Linked DNA regions of Homo sapiens: region 1 is linked to region 2. The links come from fine-mapping of genetic effects on gene expression. A gene starts in region 2. The other region holds a variant in brackets. All regions are shown on one strand. Distances are from middle to middle.

Region 1 (4,400 bases), 130 kb before region 2:
AGTATTTCTTACAATGTAAAATAATTGAAAAATCAGATAATAAAATTAGTAGTTATTAAGCTATTAATATTTATAATTTATATGCAACATTTATGCCAAATGTAGTACTACAGCTACATGTACCTTAACATATGGTTATGAGCAAATATTGCATGTTACATTACATAGAAAAGTATATGTAGATCTTGGGTATAGAAGAATAAGAAATAACTTCTTTAATTTTTATTTTCAAAAGAGATGAAAAATCCTATATTGCGTCTAAACCTGATCAGACTTTTATGACTAATCACAGTGCTGCATGCATTGAAAGGCATTTTTTAACTTGTGTTATATTTCATTATTTGCTGTCATTGGTTTTCCACTAGAGTAAGGTAAGTCCTCCTTACTAAATCTGGGGAACTGTTTACTAATAGTTTCATCAGTGACACCAAACTTAACTGAGAAGTTTTGTAAAGCACCTTTGCAACTAAAAAAAAAAAAAAATCTATGAAAACAGTAATAAATGATACTGGTATATAGTGGAACATTTGAAACTTATTTCCATGTAAATTCGGAGTCAGTCAAATTGAGATAAGTCCCTAATATATACAATATAGGGCACAACAGCATAGACCAGAGTGCTAGTCAGCATTTCATCATTGGGCAACAGATTTGACTTAGATTCTGCTCTGTGCTTGACACCGTATTGGGTGCCCTTGAAGTGCTCACAGTTGATAAATTTGTTATGAGGGACAAGGGAAAATAGAAATGTGTGCAAAAGATTTAGGGACTCTGATTAAATGGAATGTCTTTCAAAAGACCTACTATGCTGAAGATGCATGAGGGTCCCTTGACTTACCAATTCTCCTCTAAGTTAATAACTGAATTGGCAGACGGAGTAGATGTATTCATAATACTTAGGAGTTCTAGATCTTGTCCTTAGGTAAGATTGGCCACTTTTAATATATTCTTGTATTTGTCCTCTGAGATTCTTTAAAATTTAAGAAGGCAAAATGGTTATAATTTATTGAACATCTATATATAGTGCTAGTTTTCATTTAATCCTTACAGCTCCCTGAGGTGCACATTATTGGATATTATTCTCATCCCCATTTAGCAGAGAAGAGAAATATGAAATCTTCAGTATGTGTGAGATGTTTGTGTCTGCACTTATTTATGCATAGCCTTCCTGAAAATGCATGGCCTTTAAGTCAAATGTGTGGCATCCTCTATGCAGGGAAGTTTCAGTGATAGTTTGAATGGCAGCTTCCTGCCTTACACTCACCAATATTTCTAAGATATGTTGAACAGTCCACTGGATTCTTATGTCTGCATTCATATAAATCATTATTTGTTCTACCATATGTTTTGGTGATAAATTACTGACAAGTAGAAATGCCTATATTTCTATGAGCTCAAATTAGTATCAATTCTCTATCTCCTCCATTTCCTTTAGAATCCATTAAAAAATCAATTGAATTGTTTTCATCATAATAAATGAACTAAGATTGTGTCTCCTTTAAAGAGTAACAGTTCAAAAGAGCACAGAGTCACTAGTTATTCAAAGATCTTGCAATGGCCATATTTCCTATGCAGAAACAAGGAAACACGTTATAATTCTATATGCCATCTAAGTCCCTAAACTCCCTTGGCAATAATGGACATTTACATTATCATTTCCAAGAAGCCTTTGTTGTTCATTCTCCCTTCTTTCAATTACTTACTCATAATGGAAGAATTTAAAAATGGACCTAGTTCTATCCACAACCAAAGCAAATTGATATGTCAAGTGGCATAGCTGATGTGCCTTGGGATGAACATTACCTCCTTTTATTGAACTTAAAATAAAAATTACTTTCTCTGGTAATTGCAGTGAATAAATAAATCTTTAAAAGTTCATTGCACTTCTTATTTCAGTTATAAGGTTATCTATAGCTGTACATCAAAATGTATCAAAAACAAAAAATAGGCTCACAAATATATCACACCAAAAAATGAGTAAATATAAGATAAATGTTAAAAATTCCCCTAATTCCCAATGCTGTTAGACATTTTAGAAGGTACAATAACTGTTTAGTAACCATGTCAATTTATTAAGTGGTCTTAGAGGCAGACAGCATTTTAGTATAGCTTGCCATAATGGTTGATTTTCAAAGGCTCATAAACTGGAAATATCCACTTCATTAGATTTCAACCTAACTGACTCAAAAGATTTTTATATTTCACATACCAAATTACCACCTAGTTTCCACGATGCTTTGATAGTGTGGTTTTTTTGTTTGTTTGTTTGTTTGTTTTTTGAGACAGAGTCTCACCGTGTCGCCCCAGGCTGGAGTGCAGTGGCACAATCTCAGCTCACTGCAACCTCTGCCTCCCAGGTTCAAGCAATTCTCCTGCCTCAGCCTCCCAAGTAGCTGGGACTACAGGCGCGTACCACCATGCCTGG[C/T]GTGCCACAACACCCAGCTAATTTTTTGTATTTTTAGTAGAGATGGGGTTTCACTCTGTTAGCTGGATGGTCTTGATCTCCTGACCTCATGATCTGCCTTCCTCAGCCTCCCAAAGTGCTGGGATTACAGGTGTGAGTCACTGCACCCAGCTGCCATTTTTAATGTGACTATATAAACACTAGGCATCTATAGCAAGTCCATTACTATATGCATATCAACATTCTCAGGAATCCAAAGATATGATACTGATACATAAACTTTTTCAAAATTAAAGAGCACCCAGGCCAGGCACAGTGGCCATGCTTGTAATCCCAGAACTGTGGGAGTCCAAGGCAACAGGATCACTTGAGGCCAGGAGTTCGACACCAGCCTGGCCAACATAGCAAGACCCCGTCTCTACCAAAAAAATTAGAAATATATTTAAAATCTTTTAAGAAAAAAATGTTATTTAAAAAAAGAACATCCAGTGATTCAAAATGTCCCCTAAATTGGTTTTAAGCTTCTACCTTGGACTAGTTTTTAGGGCACTAAAGATCTGCAACCTGCTAGTATTTATTTTCTCACCTATAAAGATGGAGACTTTCAATCAGCTCCATAATAAGTAAATAATTATATGGAGACGTTGCTTTAAAGCTGTTAAGTAAGCACATCAAGTTTTGTTAAAACTGAATGTTCTTTTGTTCCCATATATTAAGGTAACTTTCATGTCAATCTAGGTTGCATTGAGATAACAAAATATCTTGAGTGTTCTAACTTCATCTTTTTTTATGTAAAATATTTTAACTATTTTAAATTCTCTTTGAGTACCTTATACCTTTAAACGTGTTTTAACAGAATAATTTTCATTGCTTTAACTTTGCAATTATTCCTTATAGTTATAGAGTAATGATTTACAGCAGGAATCCAATCAGTAAGTCACCATAAGTTCAACAAACATGCCTTGACCACCCATGCACGGGTCAGGCAGGAGGCTCAGTGCTATGGTGCGGGGGTGGGGGGAGTTGGGGGACTGGCCCCCATACCAACAAAAGTTTAGTTGTGGGGAGCCAAGATATGAACACAAACTCCTTCAAAGCAGGAAATGAGCACTATGAGAGTTCAAAGTAAAAAAAAAAAAGTTCACTTATAGAGGGAGTAAACAAAGAAAATGTAATACTTGAACACGTAGAATCTAGGAAGTGATGTTGACAGCTGGCCAATGAGGCGGGTAGAAAGGACTCAAGGCGTTTGAGTAGAGCAGTTTGTATAGGAATGTAGAAAAATAAAGGGCAGAATAAGATTAAGCATGAAGAGGACTTGAAACGTCTGTTTAAGTTGGCTTAGCTGTTGCTCCATAGATAAGAGGATTCTGCATGGTTTTGGGCAAAGTGAAGCCAGTGTTTGAGGAAAAGTTTACTGAATCTGGTGTGCAAAATCAACTGCATGTATGTGTAGGAAGGTATACATGCACATGTATACAATTATGCATTCAGTTATACTTTCTTAGTATTTCAGGGGTTTCCTTTCAGTGGAGTTTTTTTTTTTTTTCATAAAAGGAAAAAAGTTAAGGAGGCTAGTTCAGGGGGCCACTATAATAGCTCAGGGAAAGAACTATAAGGCGACTGAGGATGCTGGCAGTAACACAGCTAGTTCCAGTCCCAAGATTTTGTGAATAAAGGAGCAACAGGATAATTTTTCTTGACACTTGATTAGTTCAATACATTAATTCCTTGGGGGTTTTTTTGTAACTCAATTTTACATAGGCAGCAGTTAGTACTTATAGCAGCTAATAAATGGATAAATTTGGGTCATTCAACTGTGACACTGAAACTGATCAACTTAGTTGATACATGTAATATTGTCACATGGAGGGGATGGGAGGGGGAGGATAGTAAATCTGCCTAAAGACAAAACCTGATTTTTTTGAAATCTTTTTCTCTATAATGTCTTCAGGATATATTCTTTGTTTCCATTTTATTGTTTCTAGCATTTTGA
Region 2 (4,400 bases):
ATGCGCGCTCACACACACACACACACACACACACACACACACACATTATTCAGCCTTAAAAAGGAATGAAATTCTAGTATAAGCTACAACACAGATGAACCTTGAAGACATTATGCTAAGTGAATAAGTCAGTCACAAAAAAGACAAATACTATATGATTCCACAAATATGAAGTACCTAGAGGTGTCAAATTCCTAAAGACAAAGTAGAAGGATGGTTTCCAGTGGACAGTTTTTTCCACTGGCATAGTTTCAGTTTTGTAAGAGATTAAATGGGTATAGAGTTTCAGTTTTGTAAGATAAAAATAGTTTTGTAGGGTGGTTACACAATAATGTGAATGTACTTAACATTACTGTAAACTTAAAAACGGTGAAGATCGTAAATTTCATGTTATGTGTGTTTTAGCACAATTTTTTTAAAAAACAAAACCCCCGACCGGGCACCGTGGCTCACCCCTGTAATTCCAGCACTTTGGGAGGCTGAAGCAGGCAGATCATGAGGTCAGGAGTTGGAGACCAGCCTGGCCAACATGGCTAAACCCCGTCTCTACTACAAATACAGAAATTAGCTGGGCGTGGTGGCACGCACCTGTAATCCCAGCTACTCGGGAGGCTGAGGCAGGAGAATCGCTTGAACCTGGGAGGCAGAGATTGCAGTGAGCCGAAATCAGGCCACTGCACTCCAGCCTGGGCGACAGAGCAAGCCTCTGTCTCAGAAAAGAAAACAACAAAAAAACAAAAACCCATGTTAGAGTTAATGGTAAAATTGAATGGGAGGAGGTGTGAGGAAAAAAATATATTAATATGAAGAAAGTGGAGTCAGGTTACTTTGCACCTTGGAGCATGTTTTAACAGTGGTTGCATTAGTAGGGATCAGGAAGAGGTTTTGGGGCAGAAGATTAGTTCAATTTTTTTTTTTTTAAAGACGGGGTCTCACTGTTACCCAGGCTGGAGCGCAATGGTGTGATCTCAGCTCACTGCAACCTCCACCTCCCGGCCTCAACGATCTTCCCACCTCAGCCTCCCTTAGTTCAATTTTTGAAAAGTCAGTTTTGAAGTGACAATTTTATCATGCAGCAGATATACAGACCAATTAAATGTATTTAATTGGCCTGGCACAGTGACTCACGCCTCTAATCCCAGAGTTTTGGGAGACTGAGGCAGGAGGATCCCTTGAGGCCAGGAGTTCAAGACCACCTTGGGCAACATAGTGAGACCCTGTCTCTACAAAAAAAAATATACATATATATATATATAATATATTTAAAAACTTTAATTGTGAAAATATAATGAAATTAGTAAGTTATTTTCTAATTTACTAATTTCTGGTGGTCCTTGCTAAAGAGTGGCATATCAAGTTTATTTTATTGAACCTGTTTCAGATACTGCTGTTGGGGGTGAGCCTTTACCCACTGTTTGTTTTTGCTAGTTTTTGCTTTTGACTGCAGTCTTAGAAGGAAGCATATAGTAGGAATACAATTGATTTTATTATACATTAAAAAATTAAGTCCCAGAGTCCTATAATTGGGAATATCTTGAATAAAAACTTCATTAGAACAAGGTAAAAATATTGCTGGCCTTGGAATACAATCTAACACACTAGAGAGAGGTTTCTTCTCCAAGCGAGTATTAAAAGATATAATGCAGGTAAATTAGTAATAGCACGACAAATATTAGCTGCTATTATCATCATCAAGTTAAACACAAATGTATCACAAATACACGTACGTAATTCTCCGCAAATGTATATACTAGTCGTCGATACTGGTTCATACAGGTATTTTCATTTTTTACTTAAAAGTATAGCGCTCCTGGGAAAATCACTGATTAGGTTCAGATTAATACATAAAGCAGTAAGAACTTAAAGATAATATAAAAAGAACTGCTTTTAAAGGTTATGTTCTATGTATTGCACTGGGACGTGGAATATAATCCTTTTTACAGGAAAACTGATGCGCCTAGGAACCATTCTCTCGTGCGACTTGGTCTCCAGCCGGATCTCAGTCAGTATAGAACTAGGTTACCGCACACGTTGGCGGGGGTGGGAGGGTGTGAGACTGGCCTCCACACCACGAAAGATCCATCCCGGAAGTGCTTACTGGTCGTCTCCATGCGCCGGTTCCTGGGCGTCTTAGAGCCAAGGCGCGAGGCTCGGAGTGAGAGGTAGAGCTGGAGGGGACCCTAAGCGCCCTCCGCCCGGGACGTGAGCCGCTGCGCCCACCGGGCTAGACCCGGCGCCATCATGCTGCTTCTGCCAAGCGCCGCGGACGGCCGGGGCACCGCCATCACCCACGCTCTGACCTCTGGTAAGTGCCCACCCAACCTCGGTTCCTTCTCACCTCAGCTGCCCCTGCCTCAGTCCTCCGCCTCGGCAACCCTGGGCTCTCTCTACCCTTGACCCTGGCGACTAGCCCCGGGGCCGTATGGGGCCGTGACGAGTGCCTTTTTGCTCCGTGTTTTAAAGTAATCCTACCCTAGATTAGAAGGAAGGAGGGTGAGGGGTGCCTTCCTTTTGCTCCTACCGTTGCTTCCTCCTCTCGCCGCTGCTGACTCATGGATTGGGCTGAGCATTTCGGGACGGAACCCCCCAGCACCCCAGAAAGGTTCTCATAAGCATCTCCTTGCCTACGGTGGAAAGACTACGCGCAGCGAGCACCCCACGTGCCTGGGGTCGTACAAAGCTTTGCTACTGGCGCTCTCTTAAACAACTTTCTCCCTCTCTACGTTTGCTCCGGCCTTGTTTTTTAAATGTCACAACTCAGACACCGCTCCTCATACTCGGTGTTCAAAGACTGTGCTGCTGAAAAGATCCGCGTAGACTTTGAAAGGCAGTTATTACAAGTGAAACTTGTCCTGCTGCTGTAGGTTTTAGTTTTATGGCCCAGGACAGTCATGAGTATTGTAAACTTAAGAGTCTTCAGGTCCAGTGATCTACAGTAATTCCCATAGCCAGTCACATAGGCGCTTGTTGAATGTGATTTTGAACATAACCCATGGCACGTGTTGCATTTATGTGTCTCCGTGTGCCTCTTACAACTAGAGCAAAAGGCTTAAAAGGCAGTGTTCTTAAAAGCCACACACCCATACTACACAGGTAGTACCTTTTTGACAGTGTTTTAATCCTCTCCTGTGTAAGGTGGAGGAAATCTTAAAATAAGTTGTTCAGGGATTTTCCTTTTTTGAATTGCTAGTATACACATGTACAGTGATTTACCCCCACTTCCCAGGAATAGATGATACCTTTACTACAAGTTTGTAATTTCAGAGAGTTTCTGTGGTCTCATTCAAGCTTCCTAGGAACTGAATGAGATAAATAGGTATTGTTCCCATTTTACAGGTGAAGACATCCTGATTCATTTCAGGTCACATAGCCACTGTCAGACCTAGTCTAAAACCCAGAGTGTCTGGTTTCAGATTGAGAGCTTGTTCCACTACAGCTTAGCTGCATTAGTAAATTCCCATTTGCTGCTTGGAAAATTGCTTTCAGGACAAATTCTTGTTAGTGAATTCTTAAAATTTTTAAGAGCTATATTCAAGATTTTAATAATTAAGACAGTTTGAGTTGTCTGGGTGCGGTGGCTCACGTCTATAATCCCAGCACTTTGGGAGGCCGAGGCAGGTGGATCACCTGAGGTCAGCAGTTCGAGACCAGCCTGGCTAACAGGGTGAAACCCTGTCTCTACTAAAAATACAAAAAAGTAGCTGGGCGTGGTGGCGGGCGCCTATAATCCCAGCAACTTGGGAGGCTGAGGCAGAAGAATCGTTTGAACCCGGGAGGCGGAGGTTGCAGTGAGCCGAGATTGCGCTATTGCACTACAGCCTGGACAACAAGAGCAAAACTCCGTCTCAAAAAATAAAAAGATAGTTTGAGTTGTTTTTAGATTTTTTATTTTTGGTGAGGCTAGCTCTTCGTGACAATTTATCACTATTTATTACTTTATTAAAATTATTTGTCTAGGCCGGGCGCGGTGGCTCACGCCTGTAATCCCAGCATTTTGGCAGGCCGAGGTGGGTGGATCACGAGGTCAGGAGATCAAGACCATCCTGGCTAATATGGTGAAACCCCGTCTTTACTAAAAATGCAAAAAATTAGCCGGGGGTGGTGGCGGGTGCCTGTAGTCCCAGCTACTCGGGAGGCTGAGGCAGGAGAATCGCTTGAACCCGGGAGGCGGAGCTTTCAGTGAGCCAAGATCGCGCCATTGCACTCCAGCCTGGGTGACAGAGCAAGACTCCGTCCCAAAAAAAAAAAAAAAATTGTCCAGGTGGGTGCAGTGGCTCACGCCTGTAATGCCAACACTTTGGGAGGCCGAGGCAGGCAGATCACCTGAGGTCGGGAGTTCGAGACCAGGCTGACCAACATGGAGAAACCCCATCTCTACTAAAAATACAAAATTAGCTGGG

Which allele goes with the higher level. Positions count from the first base shown, and alleles are read on the strand shown. Sizes are in standard deviations (SD) of each study's normalised expression.
For the expression in prefrontal cortex of the gene that starts at base 2,097 in region 2, allele T in region 1 goes with a higher level than allele C (moderate effect, 0.43 SD a copy in ROSMAP).

What was found. PIP is the estimated chance that this variant, and not a neighbour inherited with it, causes the effect. A credible set is the group of variants that fine-mapping cannot tell apart.
Region 1: its variant is the best candidate, but not a certain one, in a credible set for the expression of DNAJC2 in prefrontal cortex (ROSMAP, PIP 0.52).

Annotation. Positions count from the first base shown.
Region 1 is chr7:103,474,360-103,478,759 of GRCh38, reverse strand. It overlaps RELN (reelin), which reads left to right. Exons shown (of 65, transcript NM_005045.4): 64 at 366-371. All of the region lies in intron 2 of SLC26A5-AS1 (SLC26A5 antisense RNA 1), which reads right to left. Among named protein-coding and RNA genes, the nearest start is that of SLC26A5, 30 kb to the right of the region's middle. The variant C/T (reference allele first, on the strand shown) is at 2,426.
Region 2 is chr7:103,342,464-103,346,863 of GRCh38, reverse strand. DNAJC2 (DnaJ heat shock protein family (Hsp40) member C2) reads left to right here and starts at 2,097. Exons shown (of 17, transcript NM_014377.3): 1 at 2,097-2,305. The coding sequence starts at 2,242. It also overlaps a transcript of PMPCB not described here. RefSeq lists an enhancer at 1,915-2,154.